4 linked regions of the Homo sapiens genome follow. The protein of the gene in region 4 purifies or fractionates together with the protein of the main gene of each other region. This does not show direct contact. Each region holds a gene or a part of one and is shown on either strand. Other genes may lie near its edges. The genes, in order: MCEE, CZIB, HMGCL and IBA57.

The links.
Region 1: the proteins of IBA57 (region 4) and MCEE purify together in Homo sapiens (co-immunoprecipitation; one large-scale study listed by IntAct). This does not show direct contact.
Region 2: the proteins of IBA57 (region 4) and CZIB fractionate together in Homo sapiens (co-fractionation; one large-scale study listed by BioGRID). This does not show direct contact.
Region 3: the proteins of IBA57 (region 4) and HMGCL purify together in Homo sapiens (co-immunoprecipitation; one large-scale study listed by IntAct). This does not show direct contact.

What each region holds. Positions count from the first base shown.
Region 1 is NC_000002.12:71,107,268-71,115,252, forward strand, and holds the end of MCEE (methylmalonyl-CoA epimerase, mitochondrial precursor), read right to left. Parts: intron 3,592-7,985; coding exon of another isoform or gene 3,571-3,591; exon of another isoform or gene 3,496-3,570; intron 2,856-3,495; coding exon 2,703-2,855; 3' UTR 2,420-2,702; downstream 1-2,419. UniProt on the Homo sapiens protein: Methylmalonyl-CoA epimerase involved in propionyl-CoA metabolism.
Region 2 is NC_000001.11:53,211,018-53,217,717, reverse strand, and holds the end of CZIB (CXXC motif containing zinc binding protein), read left to right. Parts: intron 1-858; coding exon 859-936; intron 937-1,661; coding exon 1,662-1,727; intron 1,728-2,981; coding exon 2,982-3,059; 3' UTR 3,060-3,619; downstream 3,620-6,700. Other genes in the region: CPT2 (carnitine O-palmitoyltransferase 2, mitochondrial isoform 1 precursor), read right to left, coding at 4,123-4,454, 6,399-6,700.
Region 3 is NC_000001.11:23,821,780-23,829,714, forward strand, and holds the start of HMGCL (hydroxymethylglutaryl-CoA lyase, mitochondrial isoform 1 precursor), read right to left. Parts: upstream 3,651-7,935; 5' UTR 3,637-3,650; coding exon 3,577-3,636; intron 1-3,576. UniProt on the Homo sapiens protein: Mitochondrial 3-hydroxy-3-methylglutaryl-CoA lyase that catalyzes a cation-dependent cleavage of (S)-3-hydroxy-3-methylglutaryl-CoA into acetyl-CoA and acetoacetate, a key step in ketogenesis. Terminal step in leucine catabolism.
Region 4 is NC_000001.11:228,170,483-228,177,924, forward strand, and holds part of IBA57 (iron-sulfur cluster assembly factor IBA57, mitochondrial isoform 1 precursor), read left to right. Parts: intron 1-4,087; exon of another isoform or gene 4,088-4,128; intron 4,129-4,209; coding exon 4,210-4,547; intron 4,548-4,639; coding exon 4,640-5,031; 3' UTR 5,032-7,442. UniProt on the Homo sapiens protein: Mitochondrial protein involved in the maturation of mitochondrial [4Fe-4S]-proteins in the late stage of the iron-sulfur cluster assembly pathway. Operates in cooperation with ISCA2 in the maturation of [4Fe-4S] proteins.

The sequences.
Region 1 (7,985 bases), on a different chromosome or scaffold from region 4:
AGGAGTGAGCCACCAATCCCAGCCAATGAATTAATTTTTTTTAAAGTGTCATTGAAAAGTTTTTTTTTTTCTGCCTCTCTACTCTGCCAACCAGGATCACCATTATCCTAAAGGTTTTTGGGTTTTTGTTTGTCCCATAGTTGTTGGATAGTTGCTGGTAGCAACCAAATTACCTGTTTTCCTTGTTCAACTCTGTTGGGAGAGAGGCTGACTTCTCATAGTTCTCACCTAGATGTGGGAAAGAACATTTCCAGATGTCTCTAGAAAACCTTTCTTCATGCTTTTAGTCCACATATGAATTACATAACCATATGTAGTTATGAACCACATCATTGAACCCATCACTGGCAAGGGTGATGTAATTTCAGTCTAATCCTGGGGCTTTACCTGAGAATTTTACCTGTGTGGGAGAGGATAAGGATGGGAACCTAACCAAGTCAGAACTCTATTAAAGAAGAAATAGTGGATGGGTGCTAACACCAGCATCTACTAAACATACTGTTTTGCATTTCTTGTGATCACATTTCATTCTTCTTATGAAAGCAAAATTTTATTGATTCATAGATTAAAGCAATAAATACCTTTTATAAAAAATGATTGCTGTATTTCCAAGTTCATGCAGCTCAGGATGTATTTTACTTCTCTTGAGACTTCCTCTTTGACAACTTACAAGTTTGGGGAGGTTTTTCTGTTGTTATTGATTTCTAGTTTGATTCATTTATGGTCACATATTTTATATGTTTCACTTACTTTAAATGTGTTAGAGTTTGTTTCATAACCCAAGATATGGTCTATCTTGGTGAATGTCCCATAAATGCCCAAAAAATGTGTATTACGTATTGGCTGATAGTACTGTTCAGTTCTCCCACGCACTTGCTTTTTGTCTAGTGGGTTTATCCATTACTAAACAAGGGGTGTTGAAGTCCCCAACTGTAAACTGTAAACTTGTCCATTTTTTCCTTTTAGTTCTATCAATTCTTAGATCATATACTTTGCAGCTGTGTTATTTGGTTAATGCACACCTGTTGTCTTTTTGTGATCTGACCTCTTCATCATTATGTAATGTATTTCTTTGTCCCTGGCAATTTTCTTTTGTCCTAAAGTCTACCTTGTCTGATAGTAAGTCATCCACTCCAGCTTTCTCTGAATTACTGTTTGCAAGGTGTATCTTTTCTATCCTTTTACTCTTAGTTTATTGATATTGAGATTTACTGATAAATCATTGTTAATTTACTGATATTTTGAGTTTCTTGTAGTTAGCATTTGGTTGGGTCAGGTTTTTAAATTCACTCTCACAATCTTGGTGTGTTTAGACCATTTACATTGAATGTAATTACTGATATGTGAGGTTATAGGTCAGTCATTTTATTGTTTTGCTTTTTTCCTGTTTCCTCTTACCTGTCTTCAAGTGGGTTATTTGGGCATTCTTTAGTAGTCCATTTTGATTTATCTACATTTTTGAGTGTATCTCTTCATATAGTTTTTCAGTGGTTACAGACTGCAATACACACATGAAGTTTACTGCAGTCTACTACTATCAACATCTACCACTTGAAGTGGAATGTGGATATTTAACCACCATTTAAGTCCCTTTTACTGCCCCCACTCTGTGATGTAATTGTCTAAAATACTTCCTCTACATACACTGAGAACCACATCAATGTTGTAATTTTTACTTTAACTTTTAAATGAAAAGTATAATTGGATATTATACTTGTCTTCCATAACAAGTTCAATGTCTACATATCTACTCATTTACTCAACATCCACTCATCCATGAACTTGTTAGCCACTTTTCCATCCACTATGCATTCAATGCATCCATCTGTAATCCTTGAAATTCATCTGAAACTTGTTTCTAACATATTTGAGTCTGACTATCCTCTGAGATCTATTCTCTCTTTCCTTTCCTTTTTAATTCATTCAGATGTTGTTTTGTAAGTGTTTACATTTATTTCAAGCAGTACTCTCCCCAAATGAACCATAAGCATCTTGGCAGTGGATTTCTATTCATTTTGTATATTCCCCTAGGACCTGTTGTGGTGTTCTAGCATCTACGTGATACCTAACTCTACAAATTACTACTGATTTAAAAAAATAATTCAGACATCTACATGCCTACTAGATGACGCACCAGGTTTTCCACAAAACTTCCTATACATCTAGCCCTAGCACCCAAAACACCTGGACCCTGAGGAAACTGTGACCACGAGTTGTTTTTGAAGAGCAAAACTTCTGAGATTAAAATTCCCTAATCTTACACAGCTTGCTCTAAAAAAGTATTCCAAAACATTCTTAGAAACTTTTGCCCCAAATATTAGCCACAAAATTGTCATACTTTCATAACTCCTTTGTGTATCCATCCATCACACACATACCCTTGTACACAGCTAACACATTACATTCAATTACCCCATTGTAGAAGAGGAATAATTTATTTCTATATGATTTTAATAATGTTCCCTAAGTAATTAGTAATCAAGATTTTCTTCAAATTCAAATTAACAAATATGTTTGTTAATCTAAATAATATACATATTTATGTATTTATATATGTATATATTTTAATCTTTCTGTAATTCAGTCTTTAACTGTGAACTTTTACATGATGGAAGCAGTGAAGGACTCAATGTCATAGTACATTTTGATAGTATTTGATAGGCTTTTTCAGGTCAATTAATTTAGTTGCTTGCAAATATAAATCAAGCTTGCTCCAGTTCCACAAGGACTCCACCACAGTCTTTAGGATGGAGAAAAATCACTGGTTTTCCATGTGCTCCTATTTTGACCTCTTCACTTAGACTGCGGATCTTCTTTTTTTTCAAATCCATCACAGCTGCATTAATATTATCCACCTTAAGAAAGGGAAATAAATTGAACACATTTGAGATCATAAAAATACCAACTTATAGTATCATAAGACTTAGAAAAAACTTTGAGAGCTCATGCAGTCTATCTCCTCTGCCTGTGGGCAGGACCATTCTTAAATCATCATAAAAAATAAGCTTAAAATTTTCAGAGAAGTAAGAGAAGTTACTAAATTTTTCTAGGTAAGCAACCACAATGCTCAGAATTTTCACCATTAGTAAATGTTTCTTCTTATAATCTAAATCATGTATGATATACTTTATAATAGTTTATTCTGGCAGTACTATTAGTGAGATTGAAGACATTGCTTTTTCCTGAGAACCCTGGGTCCTCATCTATAACAGGCAAATGAGGTCTACCACATAAATTGACTACAGATTAAAATGAGGTAACAGATAAAAAGCTTTCAGTACAGTTTATGGCATAATAGGTACTTAGCAAATATGAGTGTTTCCCTGATCCCCAAAACTTGCCCTGCCAAAACACCTGGTTATTACCTTTGACATTATCAAGACACACATGAAAATCACTATTAAATTGCCATCAAAATGTTATTCCCCACCCAAAAAAATTTCAAACTTTAATGTTTTTGCAGCCTCTTCTAAGTTATTTCTATTTTCTTCATACTTATGGACACTCTAGGAGGAGCAGATGTGTCTCTCTATACTTGACGGAGAAATGATCTGCCTCTATCTTGGAAAGTCACCCACTTAGACTGGGAACCTAAGAAATGGATGAAAAGGTATGATATGAATGGCCACATTCCTAGGCAGTCATAAATCACTAGTTTAATTAAAATCACTAGTTTAATTAAAAAAAACACACAAAAGCACAGAGACTAGTTTAACACCCATGTACCTACCATTCAGATCTAATAAATATTAGTATTTATACAATTTTATTTCCAAAGAGCCAAGGATTATATGCTGAATTCTAAAACCAGTCAAACAGCTAATGAGGATACTAAATGTTACATAAATAAGCTATGATTTCTTCATATGGCACATATTCTACTTGTATTCCTGATATTTCTTTTTTAAACCTCATAGATATGTCAAAGTCACACGTGCCTAGATTCTGAACACAGCTCATTTCATGACATCTTGCACTGTAGCTGGTTAATTCTCATCTTTTTCAGAATAGAACATGCACTAGAAGCTCGTGGCAGGAACGGCTCGACCCACTTAGTGAGGAAAATTGGTCCTCACTGATGTCAGACATTGTCAATTTTATCTTATTTTTAAATTCATATCAATATTATTAAGCTTTTCTTCTGCTGCGTTAGGTGGGATTGGAGCAGCTTTTAGTCTAGGACTAATTTTCCTCACTACCAAGCCAAAGCCCTTCTGAGTACTCTTCCCAATGTTACGGAAATTACTATGACTAGTAAGAAAAAACTATCCCCACCTCTGTGTGTGGATTATTCCCTCTAATCCTTTCAAGGGGTTCTATTCTAGCTTCCTAACATGCGTGCAATACTCGAAGCTCCGATGAAGACATGAAAGGTACTACAGATCTTTAGAGTTCACTCTCTGTGCAGCTCTCCTTTCCAGGAGAGAGCTGTGAACTCTAGCACCATGGCCTCCTCAGACTTCCAACTCCTATCTCCGCAACTCAGGGAGACCACTAAGTTCCACGTGGATTCCCCCTTCCTGCACTGCAGTCTGGAAACTCTCTACAGCCAGTAAACTGGGTAATTGTAGGGCTCATCTTGTTTGTTTACCCTCTCTCAGAAATCAATTCCTGTGCTGCCTGATGTCCAATGCCAGAAATCCATTATGTCATGTATTTTGTCTAGGTTGCTTGTTTGTTTCAGGGAGGATAAACTGATCTCTTTTACACCAACTTGGCCGGAATCAGATTTCTAAATTGGCAGGTTTTTTCTGTCAGCAACTAAAAAGTGTCATTACATGTCATTCTATAATATGTCTTTTTTACTTTGATTGCTTTTAAGATTTTCTTGTCATCTTTGATTTTCAGTTTGACTATGGTGTGCTTAGGTGTGGTTTTCTTTCTTTTGAGACAGAGTCTCACTCTGTCACCCAGGCTGGAGTGTAGTAGTGCGATCTCAGCTCACTGCAACCCCTGCCTCCAGGGTTCAAGCAATTCTCCTGCCTCAGCCTCCAGAGTAGCTGGGACTACAGGCACACGCCACCATGCCCAGCTAATTTTTATATTTTTAGTAGAGAAGGGGTTTCACCATGTTGGCCAGGATGGTCTCGATCTCTTGACCTTGTGATGTGCCCGCCTCTGACTCCCAAAGTGCTGGGATTACAGGCGTGAGCCACTGCACCTGCCTTTTTTTTTTTTTTTTTTTTGAGACAGAGTCTCACTCTGTCACCTAGGCTGGAGTGCAATGGCATGATCTTGGCTTACTGCAGCCTCTGCCTCCTGGGTTCAAGCGATTCTCCTGCCTCAGCCTCCTGAGTAGCTAGGATTATAGGCATGTGCCACCATGCCTGGCTAATTTTTGTATTTTTAGTAGAGACTGGGTTTCACCATGTTGGCCAGGCTGGTCTCGAACTCCTGAACTCAAGTGATCTGCCCGACTTGGCCTCCCACAATGCTGGGATTACAGGCGTGAGCCACTGTTGCCCGGCCTGGTGTAGTTTTCTGTTTGCCCTACTTGGGGTTGCTGACTTTCTTGAAACCATAGAGTGATGTTTTACATCAGATTGGTAGTGTCCTTGTCAACTATTTTTTCAATTACTGCTTCTGTTCTATTTTCTCTCTCTTCCTTTTCTGGGACTCCAACTATATTCTGCTAGAACTTTTGACCATGTCCTACATCTGTCTTATGCTCTATTCTGTTTTCTTTTTCTTCCATATTTTTTACCTCTTGATTTTGGAATTCTAGTTTCTAGAACTGTGAAAAGAATAATTTCTGTTTTAAGCCACTAAGTTTGTGATCATTTATTATAGCAGCCCTAGAAGACAAATATAACTACCACACATCATACCGAAATTGAACAACGAAGTAGATGGATGGCTGATAGTGGGAGCTAAGTTTCTCACTGTTGGAATGAGAAGATAAAGGCTAGTGTGGTCTATGTGGTAATGGATTAGAGCTGGAGACGTCAGTATGCTCTGAGGAGTTTATGACATTTCATGAATTCTATAATATAGTTATATACAGAAATGTGTATAGATATGTGTATATATACAGTATACACACATATATATCTCCCTGTTGTCCTGGCTCAGTAGGGCAAGAACCAATGACACACCCAGTAGCAATAAGCACACTTAGAACCTAGATCTTGGCTTCTAATACCATTCTCCAGTAGTAGGAACCAGGGCTCCTAGATGAAATGTCTAATTATATGGCTAGGGCAAAGAGTAAAGAAGATGAATTTGGAGCATCTCATATAGAAGATGAATTTGGAGTATCTTACAGTGCCAGAAAAAGAAAGGAAGTGCTTAAAAAACAAACACAAAACACAAAACCAAAAATGATCGGGGTATGTCAAAGGGACATAAGAATCAACTGAAAGAGCTCCTAATGGCCAAAGCTGGAACAATCTGAGGGGAAAAAAAGTAGTATTAGATTGTAATGCAAGTCATAAAATAAATATCCACAAGTCCATACTGATATAACTCTCTATTCCTTAAGTGTGGGCCTTGCATAATGACTTCCTTCCAAAAGAGGATAGTATGGAGGAGAAAAAAAGAACAGCTTTCCAGTGGAGAAACCTGACAACACCTCCTCACCTGGGAGATCAAGGTTAATATCAACAGTAGTAAGTCATGTTGATAGTATGAATCCTTGATATGATGTGATGAAAATGACACTTTACCTCTATGGTCTTCCCAAAATCAATAACATGAGTCTAATAAGAAAAATATCACACAAATCTCAACTGAGGGACAGTTTACAAAATAACTGAACAGTAATCTTCAAAAGTGTTAAGGTCATCAGAAACAAGGAAAGGAGATCCTAGAAAAAGGTTAGAAAACAAAACAAAACAAAAAAACAAGGAAAGTTTGAGAAACTGCCACATGCAAGAGGAGCCTCAGCAGATACGATGACTAAATGTGATGTGCTAGGGGTGGAGGAGTGGGGGAAGGGAGAGCATCAGGATAAATAGCTAATGCATACAAGGCTTAATATCTAGGTAATGCATTGTCAGGTGCAGCAAACCACCATGGCATACGTTTACCTATGTAGCAAACCTGCATGTCCTACACTTGTATCCTGGAACTTAAAATAAAATTAAAAAAAAAAAATGTGATGTGAAATCCTAGATGGGATCCTGGAATAGAAAAGGGACACTGGGTAAGAACTAAAGGAATCAGAATAAAGTACAGACTTTAGCTAATAACAATGAATTGGTATTGGTTCACTAATTGTGATAAATGTATCAAACTATTATAAGATGTTCATAATTTTTTTAAAGCATCTGATGAGATTAACCACTGTTTATAATGAGTGGATCTTGTTTTTATCCTGATTAGAGCAAATCAACTATAAAAAGACATTTGTAAATCAATCTGGGAAATTTAATTTATGAGCTGTGTATAGATGGTGCCAAAAGATTTCCCTTTAATTTTGACTGAAGTGCCAGAAAATAAAGATGATGTCACCGTGGTTATTTTTGTATTTCTTAGAGACCCAAACTGAGTAAGGGTAAAATGACATGTTGTTCATTTAAAATAATTTAAGGAAAAAAGAAAAAAAGATGACGTGTAGCAAGAGCTTGAAAACTGTTGAACCTGGGTGATGAAAGTACTGACATGATTTTTTTTCTACTTCTCATATGTTTGAACAATTTCATGATATAATCATGACTTTTTCCATAGTGCCCTTTTGATAACTCCTATGCTACATGTGATTATGAATATTTTCATTTATGGAACATTCTATCCAAGTACAAGTATCTATAATTTTGACATTGCAACCCAATGTTTTAGTATACTCCTTCTTCAATATCCCTCAATCATGAATTACTTCAAGCCTGGGCACAGTGTTTCATGCTGGGCACAGTGGTTCATGCCTATAATCCCAGCACTTAGGTGGGGCCAAGGTGGGAGGATGGCTTGAACCCAGGAGTTTGACACCAGCCTGGGAAACATAGTGAAGCCCCATCTCTATAATCAATCAATCAGTCAGGTGTGGT
Region 2 (6,700 bases), about 170 Mb from region 4:
TTGGTATTTATTTAAAGTATCTTGAGTTGTGCCAAATTCTTGGCTTTGTCCTGAAGTTAAAGAGAAATTAAATGAGGACTCGCCTTCACGTACATAATAATCTAGTGGAAAATACAAAAAACAAGAATCGAACTAGGGCCCTAACAGAGAAGTGCCTTACCAGTGCCAGAGATGTGGTCAGTGTGCAGGAAATTACTTTACAGTGAATGACAGGATGAGACTGAATGTAGGGCATGGCACTTGTGGTCCCTAAGCCCATAGGTCAGGTAGGCATGAATTTCCTGGCCACCTGCCCCCCAAGAGGTGCCCCCTCCACATACATAACCATTTCAAAGGCTATAAGACAGCCCTCTGCCCTTACTGCATGGCAGATGGTCAGCAAAAGGCTATGGTTAAGTGTACTGGGTCTGTTTGGATGATCTAGAGACTTTGGAGCTTAACATTCTTGTTCATATTTTTGGTGTTGATAATTTTATTTACTATTTATTGAGCACTGTGCTGGGCACTTTATATGCATTTCAAAATCTGACAGTAAAATTGTAGAGGTTTCCTCGGCTCTATTTGACAGTTTAGGAATCTTGGGCCCAGAGGGGAAGATAGGCAGAGCTTACCTTACATCCAGGCAGGTTGACCCCAGCATCCACGCTCTTCTGCAGCCTCCATGTCTGCTGTCTACAGAAAGCTTCATAGGGAGCAGGTGCCCAAGGCAGGCTTCCTCTAAGAAGGGGATGAGTTCTTCCTGGGTCTCATACTAGGCCTCCAGGGGCAGTAAGTGCCCATTTGGCAGGAAGGAGAGGGGCCATGGGGTCATCCTGAGAGCTCATTTGGGCCTGCCTCCTCAACACACTTCCTTTCTAGGCTGAAGACAATGAGAACTTCAAGACAATAGTGGAGTTTGAGTGCCGGGGCCTTGAACCAGTTGATTTCCAGCCGCAGGTGTGTGTGTATCTTTCTGGGGAATCTTTGTCTTTGGGGAGGGGATGTATGAAGTGACAGCCAGAACTGTGCTACCTACAGATACCATGGACTAGACATTCTCCTTTCTAGCGGTAGTAATAATTGTCCCTTAAGTGGCTGCTGTATGCTTGGGCACCCATGCCATCATTTTTACATGTTACCACATTTAATTCTTATGGTAACCCTATGAATTTATTCATCCTGTTCTTCAGATGAGGAAGGAACTGAAGAGATTTTGCAACTTGCTCAGGGTCACACAGTAAGCAGTGGAGCTATAGTTTCAACCCAGATCTATCTGACTTGAGCTGGTGCTCATCCCCCTTTATTTGTGCATGTTTCACCTCACAACAAATCTGTGAGGTAGGCAGAAGAGCAAATACTTCATCCCCGTTTTATCAATAACTAAGGTCCAACCTGGGAAATGACATGCCCAGGAGCCTTCAGCAAACCAGGGCTAGTGGAAGGGATTACGCTGCCCCTGCTGCCTTCTGGTCCAAGGCTGTAATTCAGAGAAACCACCACTCTAGTTCTGAGGCAGCTGCCGGGTCCTGGAAGCTCAGCAGTTATTCCAAGACAGGTACTCATACTGCATCTCTGTCCTCCATCCCAGAAGTGTGAGAAGAGCCAGCAGCCTGGCCGGCCCTTACTTATAGCCCAATGCCTTCTTTTGCCAAGACTAACTGGTACCTTCTTGTGCCCTGCAGGCTGGGTTTGCTGCTGAAGGTGTGGAGTCAGGGACAGCCTTCAGTGACATTAATCTGCAGGAGAAGGTATGAGACTTGGGGGCTTTGGGAGGTACTGTAGGGCACCTGGTGGGAATTATTTTTTTGGTGGACAAGGCTCATCAATGGAAAGCCAACTCTGTATTTTTGTGCTTTTTGTTAGTGATTTTGCTGTTGAAATGGCCACAGGTATAGTGCTAAAGTGCTTTCTAATGTTCCTACGTATGAGAAAGCTATGATGCCCCTTACAGAGAGAATACGTGTTAGATAAGCTTTATTCAGGCATGAGCTATAGTGCTGCTGGCTGTGAGTTCATGAATCAACAATATATATTAAATAAGTTATCTTTAAACAGAAACACATAAAGCTAGATTATTGATTGGTTGATGAAAATGTGACCAGAGGCTCATAGGAACCTAACCCTGTATTTCCCCGGGGAGTATTCATTCAGTATTCCCTAATTCAGTGTTTGTGGTGGCTTTACTGCACCTAACTACCATGAAGAACAAGAAATAGTCTGTATTACTGGACATATTACTACCCTGCAGATAGAAAAGCCTTGTGCTCAAGCCTTGAAGGAAGGACAAAAACTTCATTTCATTTGCTCAGCACCTAATAACAGCAGCTAGCATCTACTGAGCTCTTACATGTGCCAGGCACTCACTATGCTGAGTGCTTTTATTTTATTTTATGTATTTTTTGAGACAATCTCACTCTGTCGCCCAGGCTGGAGTGCAGTGGTGCAATGTCAGCTCACTGCAACCTCTGCCTCCTGGGCTCAAGTGATCCTCCTACCTCAGCCTCCCAAGTAGCTGGGATTACAGGCGCCTGCCACCATTCCTGGCTATTTTTTGTATTTTTAGTAGAGACCGGGTTTCACCTTGTTGGCCAGGATGGTCTCGGACCCCTGACCTGAAATGATCCACCTGCCTTGGCCTCCCAAAGTGCTGGGATTACAGGCATGAGCCACCACGCCCGGCTGCTGAGTGCTTTTAAATGTGTTACCTCATTTGATTCTTTCAACATTCAATATGAACTCCATTGTCCTTTTTTTGTTTTTGTTTTTTTTAAATAGAAGACAGGACTCGGAGAAGGGACTCAGAGAAGTTAAGTGATTTGCCCACAGTCATACAACTGAAAGAGCTAGAATTCAGGCCTGAGCTATCTGGCTCTGTTCAGGGTCATACATGTTCATGATTATTTGAGTCAGAGCCTGAGCTGGGCCTTTTAAGTCCCAGTTTTCTGCTCTCCACATGGCTGCATTCTGCGTTGTGAGGCTAACAATGCCATTTTGTTTCCCAGGACTGGACTGACTATGATGAAAAGGCCCAGGAGTCTGTGGGAATCTATGAGGTCACCCACCAGTTTGTGAAGTGCTGATCCCTCTTCCTTCCCAGTTGCCCTTAAGAACTGAGAAAGGACAAAGTACTCTAAGCAGCAGAGCCCACAGAGGCTCGTTCCTTTGACCCTTGTCTCCTGGTGGCTATACGAAACCTTCACAATCTGCATGCTGGACTTTATTACAGCTTCCCAAGCCCCATCAATAAAGCCCCTGTTCACGCTGCACTGGTGCATGAAGGTGAAGTAAGGAGGCAGCTACTCCCTCCACAAATAAGAATTCGTGCAGCAGCAGTTCACTCCTTAGGAAAATGAAGAGTATTTTTAAGGAGATGGTATCTCCCCAGTCAAGGGCAAGTTTACAGAGATGAAACCGCGATCCCACCATCACTCAATGAGCCAGAAGCCAATGGTGACGTACTGTTACCTGAACTTACTGAACTTGCTGTTGGAAAGATCTTTGTGAGGATTAGGAATTAGGTTAAAAGAAATTAAGAACCATCTTCAAGCAAAAATTAAACTTTATTTCTGCTTAAACAATAAATACACCTGAGTTAGTTTTCCAAACCTTTCCTCCTGATTAAATGCCCTTAAAACTTAAATCTCTTGTTATCTTCAGTTGTGATCTAGTCCCAAGTGGAAATTACGTTTAGCTTTAAAACCATGAATTTAAAGCTCAAGCCTGTAGCTGGCTGCCTAGGCAGCTTATGATTAGTTTCACAGAATAGCACCCACTGGCTACACAGGCCCCAGTTTTTTTTTCTTTTTTGTTTTTTTGAGACAGTCTCGCTCTGTCGCCCAGGCCGGAGTGCAGTGGTGTGATCTCAGCTCACTGCAACCTCCACCTCCTGGGTTCAAGCAATTCTGCTTCAACCTCCCAAGTAGCTGGGATTATAGGCACATGCCACCACACCCAGCTAATTTTTGTATTTTTAGTAGAGACAAGGTTTCACCATGTTGGCCAGGTTGGTCTCAAACTCCTGACCTCAAGTGATCCACCCGCCTCAGCCTCTCAAAATGCTGGGATTACAGGCATGAGCCACCATGCCCGGCCTCCCAGTTTTCATGATGAGGAAGTGATGGTAGCTTTTCATCTGCCCAGAAGTTAACTTTTGATGGATTTGCCTTCTAAGGCATCAAACATGTCTTCTAAGGCCTTCTCCACACATTGGAGAAACTCCCGGGCATTGCGGCCTGGGTAGGAAGAGACATTGCAGCCTATCCAGTTGTCATGAACAGCATACCCAACACCAAAGCCATCAGAGACCACAGGGGCAAAGCCCCCAAGGTTCACTGCTGGGCTGCTCAGTGTGCTCGTGGACAGGACATTGTGGTTTATCTGCCCGTATGCAGGGTCCAGGTAGAGCTCAGGCAAGATGATCCCTTTGGCTGCTGCCAGATGCCGCAGAGCAAACAAGTGTCGGTCAAAGCCCTGGCCTGTGAGAAACAAAATGGAAAACCAGAGTCTCAGGATGGAAAAGGACCTCAGGAAAACCTCCCAACTCACCACATGGTAGGAATACCCCTCACAGCATCCTTGAGAGTGGGGGAAGGCTCTACCTCTATGCACACCACCAACTGACTAACCTTCAGAGCAGCTCAAGCTAGATTATTTTAAATTATTTAGGAAATATATTATGTCATGTTACATTTAAAAATAGCTGTCAACAGCTGAGCTAAAAATGAGCCTAAAAGGAAAGCATAATTTTAAAGATGTGAAATCAGTTTAGTCAAAGAGTCAAGACAGTACAGGAAGACAGCTATGGACTCAAAAACTACAATAAAACTAAAAGTCTGATTCAAGTGTAAAAGAGAAGATTGAGTCAGTGGAACAAAATGGAAAGTCTGTTTGACCAGGGTTCGAATCTCAGTCTTACTACTAACTTGCTGTGTAACGGGGCCAGTGGCTTGGTTTTCTCCCTATAAAATGGAGGAAGAGAAGATTAGAATGTCTTGGAGGTCCCTTTCACTTCCAGCACTTCATAGCAACATGAAAGGACAACTATGACCCTCCAGGTCCTTTCCAGGTCTTGAATTTTATCAAAAAAAGGTAATGACGGATGACAATTGAGAAGAGCTTCTGAGATAACCTGTTTACAGAGAGCAGACACATTACAACTGAGGTGAAGCTAGTGGGGCCGTAAGTTTAGAAATCCTAAATTTTCAAAAGTGAGTCTGATAACCAATCAGTAATAGAAAAAGGTTGGGTGCAGTGGTGCATGCCTATAATCCTAGTGCTTTGGGAGGCCAAGGCAGGAGGATTGCTTGAGCCCAGGAGTTTGAGACCACCTTGGGCAATACAGTGGGACCTCATCTCTACAAAAAATTTTAAAAATTAGGCCCGGCATGGTGGCTTACGCCTATAATCCCAGCACTTTGGGAGGGTGAGGCGGGTAGATCATGAGGTCAGGAGTTTGAGACCAACCTGGCCAACATAGTGAAACCCCGTCTCTATTGAAAATATAAAAATTAGCTGGGCATGGTGGCATAAGCCTGTAGTCCCAACTACTCAGGAGGCTGAGGCAGGAGAATCGCTTGAACCCAGGAGGCAGAGGTTGCAGTGAGCTGAGATTGTGCCACTGCACTCCAGCCTGGGCAACAGAGCAAGAGTCCATCTCAAAAAAAAAAAAAAATTAAAATATCAGCTGGGCATGGTGGTGCATGCCTATAGTCCCAGCTATTTGGGAGGCTGAGGCAGGAGGATTGTTTGAGCCAAGGAAGTTGAGGTTGCAGTGAGCCATGATTGCACCACTGTACTCCAGCCTGGGTGACAGAATGAGACCGTGTCTCCAAAAAAAAAAAGGCCAGGTGCGGTGGCTCACGCCTGTATTCCTAGAACTTTGGGAGGCTGAGAGGGATGGATCACCTGAGGTCAGGAGTTCAAGACCAGCCTGGCCAAAATGGCAAAACCCCTTCTTTACTAAAAATGCAAAAACTAGCCAGGTGTAGTGGCGGGTGCCTATTATCCCAGCTACTTGGGAGGCAGAGGCAGGAGAATCACTTGAACCTGGGGGTGGAGGTTGCAGTGAGCCGAGATCACGCCATTGCACTCCAGCCTGGACGGAGGGAAACTCTTGTCTCCAAAAAAAAAAAAAAAAAAGAAAGAAAAAAGAATTAATGCGTCACAGCTGAAAGTGACCTTAAATGAGGACAAAGACACATGCATTTCCCCACCCCTGCTTAGGAGGCAAGAACATTCTGATCCCTAGTGGCTAGTGTGGCTGTTCAGACTGCTAGGGTAGAAAAGAAAAATTTGGGGAGTTGGCGATGGATTAAACCTAGTGAACGGGTAGAAATCAGATTTGGAGTAGAATGATTTAGGCTTGCTTACCCAAGCACTGAGGACAAGACCCAAGGGCATGCTCCCCACCCCTGCCTCACCCATTGCTGCTTCTTTGGTCAGCTGGCCATGGTACTTGGAGCACTCAACCATCATCTGCTGAAGCTCACCAGCACTGTGCCTGGAGGGCTCCCTGACAAAGGCCTCAGAGCACCTCTTTGTATAGACGGAGGCCGGGCGGATGGTCTCAGTGCGGCCGTGCTTGAATGCGGCAGTGCTACAGGACTCGTAGGTGGCCACTGTCTGCCCGTACTGCCGCAGGAAGGCCATCTGGAATGCCAGCTGGGCAACTGCGTCAGGGCTCAGCTTTTGCTTCTTCAGGAATTCTTTGCCTCCTCTCTGA
Region 3 (7,935 bases), about 200 Mb from region 4:
CAACCTCCACCCAACAGGTTGCTAAGCTCCCTGCCTTCTCTTCCCTCTGCCCCAGGGTTCCTCATCTGGCTTTTTTTAAAAAAACTGGCTGTTCTTACATCTCTCTCTCATCTTTCAGTTGCAGAGAGGCTTCCTCTGACCACCCTTTGCAAAGCTGCCATTCCTCCCACCCCCATTATTTTCGCTATTGCAGAGCTATAATTATTTCCTTCAAAGCACGATAAAGAATGCCTACTCAATGTCTCTTCCAGTAGAACATAAGCTCTTTGAGGGACCTTGTCTGTCTCAACTCCACTTCATCCCTAGTGTTTGGCACCGTGTTTGGTACAAAGTAGCCACTCTTTAAAGTTATTAAAATAACACATAAACCATGAAGGACACAGCTGTCCCAGAAGAGAGCAATTACTGAGTGTGGGGAGGAGTAGTCAGTCCTGGACTTTTCGGGGTATGGGCGAGATGCAGGAGGGCTCTCTTCTGTTACAGTCATAGGCTGGGTGATGACAAGCATGGGTCTAAGGGGAGGTGACACCCCCAGTAGCTGAAGACAGTTTTTACAAAATGCCCTGAGTCTCCTCTATATAAAGTCAGCTCAAAATCTTAGTCTTCCCTATCAAGTAACACAATACTTTTTTTTTCCTCTTTCCTCTACCTGTCTTGATACTGTAACTTTTCAAATCAACTTTGTTTTACAGATTTAATCTGGATAAATATACTACAACGAGGCAAAGCGGAAGGCACACTGTGTGATCCGCTAAGGATCTCAACCCCCTGAAGTCCCCCAGGAATTCCCTGCTAGGAAGCAGCTGGAACATGTACAACTCACCTGACTGGCCTTGTTTTAGCCAACAAGCTTTCTTAGAGACTAAGGCGATGAGCCATTGAATTTCATGACGTCAACAGGCTAAGTTGGAAGGTCCCTGCAACTTGAATCTCCCTCCAACAGGGATGTTCAGCCTCTGCTAGTATATCACCCTAAAACTATCTCACTGGAACATAAGTTTCATGAGACAGGGACTTTGTTTTATTCAATGCTGTATTTCTAAGGCCCTGGGACATAATAGGGGCTCGATAAATAACAGTTGAGTGTTGCTGAAATAATCTAAAACCTGCTTCAGGCCAAGCGTGGTGGCTCACGCCTGTAATCCCAGCACTTTGGGAGGCCGAGGTGGGCAGATCACCTGAGGTCAGAAGTTCGAGACCAGCCTAGCCAACATGGTGAAGCCCTATCTCTACTAAAAACACATAAATTAGCTAGGCATGGCAGCAGGTGCCTGCAATCCCAGCTACTCGGGAGGCTGAGGCAGGAGAATTGCTTGAACCCAGGAGGAGGAGGTTGCAGTGAGCTGAGATCGTGCCATTGTACTCCAGCCTGGGGTACAAGAGCGAGACTTCTTCATCTCAAAAAAAAAAAAAAAAAAAAAAGCTTCTAAAACCTGCTTCCAAGCTGCTTTTATTAGAACATTATAAACTCAATTCCACTTCCTTCCTTCCCCGTAACAGCTCTTCACATAATAATTCAGTTTTTAAACACTTAATATTTGCCAGGCACATACAAGAGCCATTTACATATTTATTTATTTATTTATTTATTTGAGATACAGTCTCATTCTGTCTCCAGGCTGGAGAGCAGTGGCGCGATCTTGGCTCACTGCAACCTTCACCTCCCAGGTTCAAGTGATTCTCCTGCCTCAGCCTCCCGAGTAGCTGGGACTACAGGTGCGCACCACCACACCTGGCTAATTTTTTGTATTTTAGTAGAGACAGGATTTCACCAGGTTGGCCAGGCTGGTCCCGAACTCCCGACCTCAAGTGATCCACCCACCTCAGCCTCCCAAAGTGCTAGGATTATAGGCATGAGCCACCACGCCTGGTGAGCCATTTACATATTAACCCATACTGTCCTCTCAACAATCTTATCAGGTAGGAACTATCATCATCCCCATTTTACTGTAAGAAATCTAAGGCCCCACTTGGGAGGCTGAGGCAGAAGAATCGCTTGAACCTGGGAGGCAGAGGTTGCAGTGAGCTGAGATTGAGCCACTGCACTCCAGTCTGGGTGACAGATGACAGAGCAAGACACCGTCTCAGGAAAAAAAAAAAGAAAGAAAAGAAAAGAAATCTGAGACCCAAAGAGATTAAGTAATCTTCCCGAGGTGACATGGGGAGTTACTCACTGAGGCAATATCTAAACCTGGCAGTGTGGCTCTAGAGCACAAGCTCCTAACCTCTGGGCCACTGTTGCCTCTTTACCACCGTTCGTTCGGTCCACAGTCTTCTCCTGGTTAAACATCCCGTTCCTCCTCTGTAAAGCTCTGCTCAGAGAGGGTCCCCCTAACCACACAAGTACTGTGCCACAGTGTCCTGAGGTATGGTGTACCTGCATCAACACCAACAGCGAATACTGACTAAACCCAGTGTTAAACTACAGGCCAGGGACTATTATTATCCCAACTCCGTAGGTGAAGAAACTAAGCCTCAGAAAGGTTACCCAAAAATCACAATTAGAAAGTGACAGAGCTTGGACTTGAACCCATATCTAGGCCTAATACTAATACTGGTTCCTATGCTTGGAACCCCATGGAGGGCCATCTCATTACACCAAATATTTCTTAAAAGCTTATTAATATCTACTATTGCGTTTAACTTTCCAAGTTGGAATTGCCATCTTCATTTTACACATGAGCAGGTGGTGCAGGTGAATGGCCAAGTAAAGATATTAACGTGGCTTTCTGAGAGGGACCCAGTGCCAGGAGTGTATTTTTCCCTCTATACAGTTATAACTCCTTCTCAACTCCCTAAGGTAAAAATACCACCACCGACTGATCACTTATTAGGAGCCAGAACACTGCCAGATGTGTTACTTACATTTTCTCTAATTTCCAAAACAACCCCAAGGGAATGTTGTCCGTTTTACAGACGAAAGAGCTGAGGTTTAGAGAAAGTAAATAACTATGTCATTAAGTCTAGAAAGTGGCAGAACTATTGGGACACCCTAGCTTCAGCTTTTATTTTTTCTGCTCCATACAGCTACGTCTCCCACACTTTTTCTGCGCTGAGAATGGGAGAGGGGAAAACATCAGGATCGAACAGGATCAAAGTGCAATTCCAAGGGAATCACAGCTTGGCTCCAATCAACGCAAGTCCCGCTCGGTAGGCTGGGATAGTTCCCCAAGCATCTCTAAAAGCAACAACAGTTGGAAATGGAGACGAAGGAAATGGAAGCGTGTTCTTGATTTTCACTAATGAAGAGTTGGAGAGGTCTGAAGTTCAATTAGAGGGAGAAAGGGGCCAGGGTCATCGGAAAGGGCCCTGGGCGGGGAATCAGGGCACCTAGGATGGCGTCCCAGGTCTCCATGACCCAGACAAGTCACTCCACCTCTCCGGACCTCAGTTTTCCCATCCCCTTCAAAGGATTTGAGGGGAAAAGGGAGGGTCCAGGACTCCAACGCCCTCCCGACTCTGGCCTGAGAGCTGTCCGGCCTCGCCTCTAAGAGAGCAGTCACCACGGGCCAAGCCCCCAACCCTGACAGTCAGAGTGCCTGCAGGGCCGCCGCCTCGGCGGCTCGGGGCACTTACAGCCCGGAGGGACGCCAAGCCCACCAGTCGCCGCGGAAGCGCCTTCCTCATTGCTGCCATCTTGGCCCAGAATCCCCCGCGGCAGTCCAGCTGGGCCCCGCGTGACCGATGGCTCGTCTGGTGGGCGCGGCCCCGCCCCCGCCCCTCCGCCGTGACTTCCGAAGCTGGCTCCACCCCCAGCCTCTCTCCGTTTTGATTCCGAGCGCCTCTTCCATGCCAGGCCAAGTGAGACGCTAGGAATATAAAGATGAACAGAATCAGCCTGGACACCATGTAATCCTAGCACTTTGGGAGACCGAGGCGGGTAGATCACCTGAGGTCAGGAATTCGAGACCAGCCTGGCTAACATGGCGAAACCCCCGTCTCTCCAAAAAATCCAAAAAAAAAAAAAAAAAAAAAAAAAAAAAAAAAAAGCCGGGCGTGGTGGTGGGCGCCTGTAATCCCAGCTACTTGGGAAGCTGAGGCAGGAGAATTGTTTGAACCCGGGAGGCGAGGTTGCAGCGAGCGGAGATCGTGCCACTGCACTCCAGCCTGGGCGACACAGTGAGAGCCTGTCCAAAACAAAAAACCCAAAACCAAACAAACAAAAACATGAAAAGAAATTAACCAAATTCTGTGGCTTCTTGTGTTTAGAGTGTGGGAGGTGTGAGGAGACACATATTAATAGTTACACAAACAGTTGTGTCATTTCTAACTTGCACTATAAGAAGCAACGATTTGCTACTCACTGTTCCGAGTTCTTAGCACGGATTAACTCACGCATCACGATCTTCAGGATTCAAACACAGGCAGGCAGCTCCAGAGAGGGGGCATCCTTAGATTTCATACCTTAAAAAAATGATTAAGATTTATCTAGGTGTACTTTCTGAAGGGCTGAAAAAAAAAAAAATCTATCCAGGTGAAGAGGATACAAGAAAAACTTTCCAGACGGTGTAGCATTCGCAATGGCCCTGAGGCAAAGAAAATGCTGAGAACACTGTTTTTCTCTCTTTTGTTTTGTTGGTTTGTTTTGTTTGTTTGAGATGGAGTCTCACTCTGTCACCCAGGTTGGAGTGCAGTGGCGCGATTTCGGCTCACTGCAACCTCCGCCTCCCGAGTTCAAGAGAGTCTCGTGCCTCAGTCTCCCGAGTAGCTGGGATTACAGGTGTGCACCACCACGCCTGGCTAATTTTAGTGTTTTTAGTAGAAACGAGGTTTCACCGTGTTGGCCAGGCTGGTCTCAAATTCCTGACCTCAGGTGATCCGCCCGCCTTGGCCTCCCAAAATGCTGGGATTACAGGCGAGAGCCACCGCCCCCGGCCAGAGCACTGTTTTCAAACTGTATGTTGTACCCCACTAATTGGTCACAGTATCAATTTAGTGGGTACAAACTTTATTTAAAACAAAGAACTAGAATTTTATCTATCTATCATCTATCTATCTATCTATCTATCTATCTATCTATCTATCCATCTATATTTATTTATTAAGACGAAGTCTCACTGTGTTGCCCAGGCTGGAGTGCGGTGGCGTGATCTCGGCTCACTGCAACCTCTGACCCCGGGGTTCAAGCGATTCTCCTGCCTCAGCCTCCGGAGTAGCTGGGATTACAAGTGCCCATCACCGTGCCCAGATAATGTTTGTATTTTTAGTAGAGATGGAGGATTTCACCATGTTGGCCTGGGCTGAAGCAATCCACCCTCCTCGGCCTCCCAAAGTGCTGGGATTACAGGCGTGAGCCACTGTGCCAGGCCCCAAATATAAAATATTGCTCTATAAAATAATAAAAGAGTGATCTAAAAAAATAAAAATAATAATAAAAGAGAAAAGGCTGGGTGCAGTGGCTTACACCAGTAATTCCAGCACTTTGGGAGGTCGAGGTGGGAGGATCACTTGAGGTCAGAACTTGAAGACCACTCTGGCCAATAAAGTGAGACCCCAAGTCTATTCAATAAATAAGAAAAATAGCCAGGTGTGGTGGCTCATGCCTGTAATCCCAACACTTTGGGAGGCCGAGGTGGGCGGATCACTTGAGGTCAGGAGTTCGAGACCAGCCTGACCAACATGGTGAAACCCCGTCTCTACTAAAAATACAAAAATTAGCTGGGCATGGTGGTGCGTGCCTGTAATCCCAGCTACTCAGGAGGCTGAGACAGGAGAATCACTTGAACCTGGGAGGCGGAGGTTGCAGTGAGCCGAGATCACGCCACTGCACTTCAGCCTGAGTGACAGAACGAGTCTCTGTCTAAAAACTAAATAAATAATAATAATAAATAAGAAAAATATTAGAATACAATGTATAAAAGTAGTAAAGCCAAGTACTGCTTTGCAAAACTTTTGTTCATTATATATATCAACAAGGTTGCAATGTAAAATAAATTTCTTACTGTGGGCTGCACTTGGAATTGTTTGAAAACACCTTTTTAGCAAGATGAAAAGAAGGCTGGAATGATTGGAGAGCGGGGAGGGAGTAGGAAGGGGACTTCCTACTAAGATTGGAGAGTTTGGCAGGAACTGTCACAGGGCTTTGGTGAACACACTAATACCAGCTGTCCTAATAGCAGTGATTTTGAATGATTTAGAGTAGGGAAATCTGATTGAATTTGCATTTTTAAATAGTCACAGGGGCTACTGGTTGGATGTTAATTGTGTGTCTGGTATTCTCAGGGAAGGCAGTGAAGGCACTTTCCTTGACTTTAAGGAGCTCAGATTTTATCTAGGGAAAAAACAAGACATGATAATTATTCTGTTAGGCTTCAGCAGCACTGGAAATTTTCTCTATCATGACACTGGGAGCATTACTCACAGAATTCTCAAACCTGTGTTAGAGGGCTGCACTCGGCCCAAACATACTGGCATGGTATTATTTAAAATATGTCTTTCAAGACTTGTACACTGAAAATTATAAACCATTGGTGAAAAAAATTAAAGAAGACATAGTGGTAGGACATCCCATGTTCATGAATTGGAAGACTTAATACTGTTTTTTAGTTTGTTTGCTTTTGCTTTGAATTTTTTAATTTTTAATTTATTTTTATTGTTATTTATTTTATTGTTTGTTTACTTATTTATTTATTTTTGAGACAGAGTCTCACTCTGTCACCCAGGCTGGAGTGCAGAGGCGCAATCTCGACTCACTGCAACCTCCGCCTCCCGGGTTCAAGCGATTCTCCTGCCTCAGGTTCCCGAGTAGCTGGGATTACAGGCACCTGCCACTACGCCCAGCTAATTTTTGTATTTTTAGTACAGACGGGGTTTCACCATGTTGGCCAGGCTGGTCTCAAACTCCTGACCTCAAGTCATCCGCTCTCCTCGGCCTCCCAAAGTGCTGGAATTACAGGCGTGAGCCACCACACCCAGCCTTTTTTTTTTTTTTTTAGATGGGGTCTCACTCATTCTCTTGCCCAGGCTGGAGTGTAATAGTGCAATCATAGCTCACTGTAGCCTCAGCCTCCTGCACTCAAGCCATCCTCCCACCTCAGCCTCCTGAGTAGCCGGGACCACTGGTGCATGCACCATCACAACCAGCTAAGTTTTAAATTTTTTGGCCGACAATGGTCTTGCCATGTTGCCCAGGCTGGTCTTGAACTCCTGGGCTCAAGTGATCTTTCTTGTTTTGGTGCCCCAAAGTGTTGAGATTAAAGATGTGAGTCCCAGCACCCAGCCAAGAAGACTTAATATTGTTAAAATGTCAGGGAGGTGGAAGCTGCAGTGAGCTGTGATTGCACCACTGCACTCCAACCTAGGTGACAGTGAGACCCTGTCTGAAAAAATATAAAAAATAAAAATAAAAATTACCATATGATCCAGGAATTTCACTTCTAGGAATATACCCAAAATAATTGAAAACATGGACTTAAACATATGTACATATACCAATAGTGTTGCTATGTTCCTCATAAATACATATTCTTGTATATACAGAATATAAATATATTTATTTATATATTTATATATAGAATGTATAGAATATAAATTTATTTATAAATATACATATATATTTATATTCTGTATATACAAGAATATATATTTATGAGCAACATAGCAACATTATTGGTATGTGAATATCTGTTTAATTCCTTGTTTGCAATTATTTTCAGTATATTTCTAGAAGTGAAATTCCTGGATCATATGGTAATGTTTGTTTTTATTTTTGTTTTATTTATTTATTTTTTTGAGACTGAGTCTCACTCTATCACCCTGGCTGCAGTGCAGTGGTGCAATCTCAGCTCGCTGCAACCTCCGCCTCCTGGGTTCAAGCAATTTTCATGCTTCAGCCTCCCGAGAAGCTGGGATTACAGGCATACACCACCACACCTGGCCAATTTTTGTATTTTTAGTAGAGATGGGGTTTCACCATGTTGGTCAGGGTGGTCTCGA
Region 4 (7,442 bases):
AGGTCTCACTATGTTGCTCGGGCTGGTCTTGAACTCCTGGGCTCAGGCGATTCTCCTGCCTCAGCTTCACAAAGTGTTGGGATTGCGGGCATGAGCCACCATGCCTGGCCTCCTTAGGGTCCCTTTCTATCAGTTGGTTTTGATCTCTCTTCATGTAGGAGGCAGAGAGAGGCTGTAGGGTCATGTTGCAGGTAGGATTGTGGTCCAGTGGCCTTGCTGCGAGCTGGCCGGGGCAAGGATGTGGACTCAGTGCAGGGCTCAGCAGGCCCAAGAGTGTCAGGGCTGTGGCCTTGTGTCTGGCCAGCACTGAGGAGCAGGAGAGACTTGTCAGGCCTCTGGTGGCCTGGGGAGGAGGGAGGAGAGAGAAGGGAAGGAGTCAGGCCGGGTCCCAGAGCAGTGTTTTCCTGAACATGACTGGAAACCCTTGGATCTGATGGCCAGGGGACCCTTTCTTTCAGTTGGCTGGGCCAGAGCCACCCCTGACCTCCCTCCTCTTCCTGCACCCTTGCTCCCACCGGGGCTTCTGGGCTCAGCAAACAAAAGCACAGGACACCCAGGTCCGTCTCAGACGAGCAACGGATGATCTGTAGGTGCATCCTATGCGGTATTTGGGATATACTAAAAAAAGTAATTTGTTGTCGATGTGAAATTCTGATTTAACCAGGTACCCTATATTTTCTTTGGCAACCCTGTCCCCTGCGCCCCTCAGCGGTATCTGGAAATATTTTTGGTTGTCATGATGGGGTGGGGTACAGGCCAGGGGTGCTGCTTAGCATCTGGACAGCCCCCACTATGGAGAATGATGAGGCTGAGAAAGCTCCCCAGGCCGGGGCTCTCCTGTGAGGCAAGTCTCCTGGCAGTCTTCAGGTGTGGCAGGGGTTGGGGTGGGCCCGGGGGTCATGTCCCAGCTCAGCTGGTCCTGAGAAGCTGCCTGGTAGACAGTCACCGGCACAGAGAGCTGGAAAGTGCCCTCGACCCCAGAACCTGGGTCCTGTGAGGACATCCACCCTGTGTGAGGCCAGGGAGTGCTCAGCAGATGGGGGCAGCAGGGGGTGTCAGCATGGGTGGGGGTTCCTGCCAAGGCAGGCAGCTGAGCTGGCCCCACCTCAGAGTGCAGGGGCCCTCAGCTTGATCTTTTCTGGGCTCCACTCTTGACTGATGGACCCATGGGGCACCCTGGCCCCACCCTGCCTGCCTTGCCCCAGCTCCTGCCCTTGCCCTGTAGGGCTCTGCGGCCTCCCCTGTGCCTGTGTGCCTGGCTCACTAGACCCTGGACCTGTGGTCCCTCAGCTCCACTCTAGTCCCCTTACTCTGTCCCTCTACTGCCTGGCGTCGCTCAGCTCCTCCCTGCCTGTCCGGCGCCCAGCATCCTGTGCCCATGACCTCACATCTGTCCCTCTGCCCGGGTCCCCCACTCACCTGTGTTTTGGTCCATCTTTGTCTGCTGACCCCACTATAGATTTTAAAAATACAAATATGCATGCACGTGGTTAAAAACTCGCTGATGTCAGATGGCTGGGATGAAAGGACTGCCTGCTGCCTTTCCTCTTGTAGTGCTCGGACACCTCTGCAGGCGAAGCTCCTTGTTTTTTTTTTTTGTTGTTGTTGTTGTTGTTTTTTCACTTCTTATTTTGAAATAATTATAGATTCACAGGAAGTTGCAAAAAAAAAAACAAAACAAAACCCGTGGGAGAGATCGCACGGACCCCTCCCCAGTTCCCCTGATTGCACACACAGGGCATATCTGGGGTCTCTGGATTTGTGTGTCTTACTTTGTGCGTCTGTGCACGCATGTGTATAACTGCAGTTTTATCACGTGTGAATATCTGTGGCCATTCTCAGGCCCACGCGGCTTCCTGCTCCTGCCCCTGAATGGGCACCCCCAACACCCCAAAACCTGTTCTCAGCTGTAAAATCGTGTCATTTCAGGAGTGTCATAGATGGATGCATCGGCCTGTCACTTTTTAGCCTTACCCTTTTCCCTCACCATAGTGCCCTCAGATCCACCCACTTCTGTCCATCTCCAGCTCCCTGTTCTTGCTGAGAAGTCCCACATGGTGTAGTGGCACCTTGATTCTCCCTTTCTGGCTGTTACCAGTATAGCTGGCTGCTGTGAGCTTTCGCTGCAGGTTTTGTGTGAGCTGCAGTCTTCGTTTCTCAGTGATCCATGCCCGGAAGTGAGAGGGCCAGGTCGTGGAGTAGTTGCTTGTTTGGTGTTGTGAGGACCTGCACCCTGTCTTCCAGAGGGCCACCCGTTTTGCCTCCCCACCAGCAGCATGCCAGTGACCTGGTTTCTCCTCATGCTGGCCAGTGTTCAGGTTCACCACTGCATCTGTCTGGGCCACATCGCCTGTGTTTCCCTGGTGGCGTGGTGACCTTTCCGCGGCACACCTGCGGCTGCCCCTCTGTGCTGTCCTTGCTGTTCCTCCCGTCATCTTAGCCCACGTGTGTAAATGACATATGTTCCCCTCCCTTGTGGGTGTTGTTTTTGATGTCCTGTGACCGCTGTCCTGGAGTGTGGGCCAGATTCACTGGCTGTCACAGCTGGCTATGCCCACCCTCCCTGCGGCAGGGTCCTCAGTGAGACCTGTGCCTACTGGTTCTGGGTGATGAGCGTGAACGTTCTCCGTGGCTGCTGGCACGTGGGCATGACCACAGGGTAGAGTGAGACTGCAGAGATGAGGGCAGCAGGCCCCTGCTTGGCACCTGAAGCCCTGGGCAACTGGCAAGGACTGAGCCCTCTCCTGGCTGGAAGGGGCTGGGCCACCTGCTCTTGGGCTTGTCTCTGGAAGGCCCTCTGGGGGTCTTACTACCTCCCTGTCTCAGCTCCCACCAGCCTGTGAAGCCCTGTGCAGTCCATACCTGCAATCAACCCCAGCCATGGAGGTGGCTGTACCCCAGGTGTCTCCACTTAGTGCCCCCCCCCCCGACATGCCCCACGCTGCCCAGCCTCTCCTCTTCCCACCATCCGTCTGGTCAGGGGTCATTCTTGTGGTGCCTGCCCAAATCCTCTGAGGAGGGCTGCCTGGAGTGCAGGTCAGAATGGCTCTGGGGCCCCGATTGGGTTCTGAGACTTGGCTTGGGGAGGCAGGTGGTGGGCATGGGCAGAGTGGGCCTCAGGCATGCTGTACCTCCCTGACAACCTCCTGGGCTCCTTGCTCCTCCCTCCTGCCCACCTTAGGACCCTTGGGCTCCTCGATGGCTTCCCTGGGCTGGAACAGGCAGGTCTGGTTCTCAGTGGCTGTGCACACCGTTCCCCTGCGGGGCCCTGCCCATCCCTGCTCCCACATCCAGCGGACTGTTGTCATTTCTGCCCTAGGCTCTGGGACTACTCCGGATGATGCCCTCGGGCAGGCTATTGCAGTTCTGCCAGTCCCTGGGCAAACAGGGTCTGTCTGCGCTGGCCCCTGTGAGCTCGTCTTTGCCTGCTTAGACGAGAGCTCCGGAGGCTCAGCTGCGCACGGCTGTGGGCAGGGCTTTCCATGCGCTGGTCCAGGTGTACCCTGCCTGGCCTGCTGTGCGTTGTCTGCACGCACCCTCGCATTGCTGTGGGCGCGGCACTCTGCGCTGGTCTCCAAGGTGCCCGCATCTAGCTGTGATGCGCGCCTTGGGAGGTGCTGCCTGGTGTGGCTGTGGGCGTGGCTCGCTGTGGGCGTGGCTCGCTGTGGGCGTGGCTCGCTGTGGGCGTGGCTCGCTGTGGGCGTGGCTCGCTGTGGGCGTGGCTCGCTGTGGGCGTGGCTCGCTGTGGGCGTGGCTCGCTGTGGGCGTGGCTCGCTGTGGGCGTGGCTCGCTGTGGGCGTGGCTCGCTGTGGGCGTGGCTCGCTGTGGGCGTGGCTCGCTGTGGGCGTGGCTCGCTGTGGGCGTGGCTCGCTGTGGGCGTGGCTCGCTGTGGGCGTGGCTCGCTGTGGGCGTGGCTCGCTGTGGGCGTGGCTCGCTGTGGGCGTGGCTCGCTGTGGGCGTGGCTCGCTGTGGGCGTGGCTCGCTGTGGGCGTGGCTCGCTGTGGGCGTGGCTCGCTGTGGGCGTGGCTCCCTGCGTGTGGTGACCTGGGCGCTTGCCTTAAAGGCGCAGCCCCTTGTGGCTGAGGGCAGAGCTCTTTGCGTTGGTCCACGGTGTGCTCCTCTGCCCGGGTAAGGCGCGCTCCCTCATGCAGCCCTTTCTGGCCCACTCAGTTGGTGAGCTGCCATGCGCCCCTGCCTCTCTCCCTGCAGGCTCCAGGAACACTCGGAGGTGTCTGGCTTCCTTCTGGAGTGTGACAGCTCGGTGCAGGGCGCGCTGCAGAAGCACCTCGCGCTATACAGGATCCGGCGGAAGGTCACGGTGGAGCCGCACCCGGAGCTGCGAGTGTGGGCGGTGTTGCCCAGTTCCCCTGAGGCCTGCGGGGCTGCATCGCTGCAGGAGAGGGCAGGGGCTGCCGCCATCCTCATCCGCGACCCGCGAACAGCACGCATGGGGTGGCGGCTCCTCACCCAGGATGAAGGCCCAGCCCTGGTGCCCGGGGGCCGGCTCGGGGACTTGTGGGATTATCACCAGCACCGATACCTGCAAGGTATGGGTGGGGTGGGCACGCTGGGCTGGATTGCACGGGTGGAGCTGGACGATGTTCAATTCTCGCTGGTTTCCCCCCTCCAATCCCTGCAGGCGTTCCTGAGGGGGTCCGAGACTTGCCTCCTGGGGTGGCCCTGCCCCTGGAGTCCAACCTGGCCTTCATGAACGGCGTGAGCTTCACCAAAGGCTGCTACATTGGCCAGGAGCTGACGGCCCGCACCCACCACATGGGCGTCATCCGCAAGCGCCTCTTCCCTGTCCGGTTCTTGGACCCCCTTCCCACCAGTGGCATCACCCCTGGTGCCACGGTGCTGACTGCCTCAGGACAGACTGTGGGCAAGTTCAGGGCTGGCCAGGGCAACGTGGGGCTGGCCCTGCTGTGGTCAGAGAAGATCAAGGGTCCTCTGCACATCAGAGCCTCTGAGGGTGCCCAGGTGGCCTTAGCCGCATCTGTGCCAGACTGGTGGCCTACAGTCTCCAAGTAGTCCGAAGCCTTGGCTGGCGCAGGCTGATGGGGAGGCTGGGGCCTGGGGCCTTTGGCCTCTGTCCAGGGTCTTCCCGTCCCATCTGTCTGCTGCGCCTACTGGGTGGGAGCCCTGGTTTCCATCTGGGAAAGTCCCCCTTGTAGGTGCCCTGCCTGGCCCCACCCATGCTCAGGGGCCCCAGGCACGTGGGTTGTTTTCTCCCTGGACTTCCTGTGGCCCCAGAGGAGCCCACCGTGTGAGTGCTGGGCTCCAGATGGCGCCGGGTCCCAATCGTGGCTCCACACAGGGTTGTCTGGGAGGACGGGACGGTGTCTCTGGCCAGCACTGGCAGCTTCCGGGCCTTGTACCCCACTCTGCCTGGCATGAGCCTCATGGGGGGTTGGTCCCTGTGCCTGGAAGCGGGGTGGTGTCCAGGGTCTGCAGGCTGGGGCTCGGGCTTTGGGAGTTGTTTCACTGTGCTTGCTTCCAGCATGTCTCAGGGTGGGGCTATGCGTGGTCTAGAGGGGTCTGGGGCATTGGATCAGGTGGCATGTGGGTGTCTACACATCGAGAAGCACACAGGGATGAGCCACTAGGTATCCCATGCTGGAGGCTTGTGGAAGGCTGTGCCCATCTCCCATGTTTCCCCACCTCTGTTCCTCCTCAGAGCCCTCCAGGAGCGTGGGGTGGGGGCCAGCGCAGGGCTCAGGAGCCAGCAGGGCAGAGTTCTGCCTGTGTGTGCTGGGTTTTGGCATAGCCTGTGTTTGCAGTGAGAGTGACTTGCTGTCAGTCACGGGGCACAGCCTCCTGTTCACCCACTGGCTTCCCCCTTCCCACTGAAGTGTGAGCTCTATGTTTCAGGGCATCTATTAAAGAGTGAGCCACAGGCAGCCCCTTGGGAGCTCTGGTTTCATTTGGGGGAGAGGGAGGTGGGGGCTTAGTTTTTGTGATCTGGCTGACTGGACCCCGGGAACAGCGCTCCTTTGAGAACGCCCAGACCTACCAGATGAAGCACTTGGCATGGCTGCAGGCCAGCAGGGGAGGCCTCAGAGGCCCAGGCTGGGCACGTGGGTGCCGAGTCTGCAAAGGACAGCCCCATGGCTGTGAGCTGTCGGCTGCAGGGCGCAGGGCCTGGGGGGCAGGCGTTTGGGCCACCAAGCTGGACGTTAGGGTGGCCACAGAGGGCCAAGCAGGCAGGGAGCCTGTGCCGCCATCCTGGGGGGCCACAGGTGCTCTCTAGAAATCTGCAGCCATGGCGGTTTTGGGGTCAGGGGTCTAAAGGCAGCTCTGAGCTGCAGTGTAGTTTGTGATCACCCAGGAGGAGGGTGTAGAGCGGATGGACGGGAGGAAGCGGCTGCAGCTGGAGGGAAGAGAGGGGCCGTCCAGCCTCACCCGCTGCAGTCAGCTCTCCTATGGGCAAGGAAACAGCTAGGTGGCCCTGACCCCTGCGGTCCTGAGAGCCGGTGGCCTTCAGCCCCTCTTGGACAGGTCATGGTCTGGAAGCGCCCAGCGCAGGATGGATTCCAGACCAGCATCCCTGCAACCTTTTCAGCCCCACTGGCTGCTGCTTTAAACTGGCATGGAGACATTTGATCAGCTTCCCAGCCAGTTTTCTCTCCAGCTCAGCCAGGAGTGGGTGCCTGTGGCCTGTGTCACCAAGAGCTGGTGTCTCCTGCATGAGGGGCATGCACCCCTGGAATGAGGGTCTGTGCCTCGAGCTCAAAGTGTCCCGGCTCTGTCATCTGCCTGAAGTTGCCTGGCTTTTCCAGTGGGGCCTCCTTGAGTGCTGCAGCATCTGGGAGCATCCTAGCCTGTCCCGTGGGTGTGGCTGGGTGAGGGCTAGGAGGTGAGCCAGGAAGGAAGCACTCCACTCCAGAGTGAGGTGCCGCCTGAGCCATCCTGTGCCCCCTCAGTGTCTTCAGGTCTCTGCAGGTGTCAGGATCTCAAAATACTTGGTTCAGATCAAACACATTTCGTGTTCTTCTGTGTCCTTTTTTTTTTTTTTTTTTTTTTTTGAGATGGAGTCTTGCTCTGTTGGCCAGGCTGGAGCTCAGTGGCACAATCTCTGCTCACTGCAACCTCTGCCTCCCAGGTTCCAGTGATTTTCCTGCCTCAGCCTCCTGGGTAGCTGGGACTACAGGCACATGCCCCATGCCCGGCTAATTTTTGTATTTTTAGTAGAGATGGGGTTTTACCATGTTGGCCAGGATGGTCTCAATTACAGGCATGAGCCACTGTGCCCAGCCTCTTCTGTGTCTTTAAAAAGGAAAGTGTCAGTCAACAAAAGAGCCCCTCTGTCATACAAACCAAATCAGTTTTCACCAAAATGTCCTTAGTCCTCTCAGAAAGGCCTGGCCTTTAGGACCTTGGAAGCAGGCCCTAAAGCGCATCGGCAGGGTCAGAGCTTTGTGTTCAGGAACACTGGGATCTGC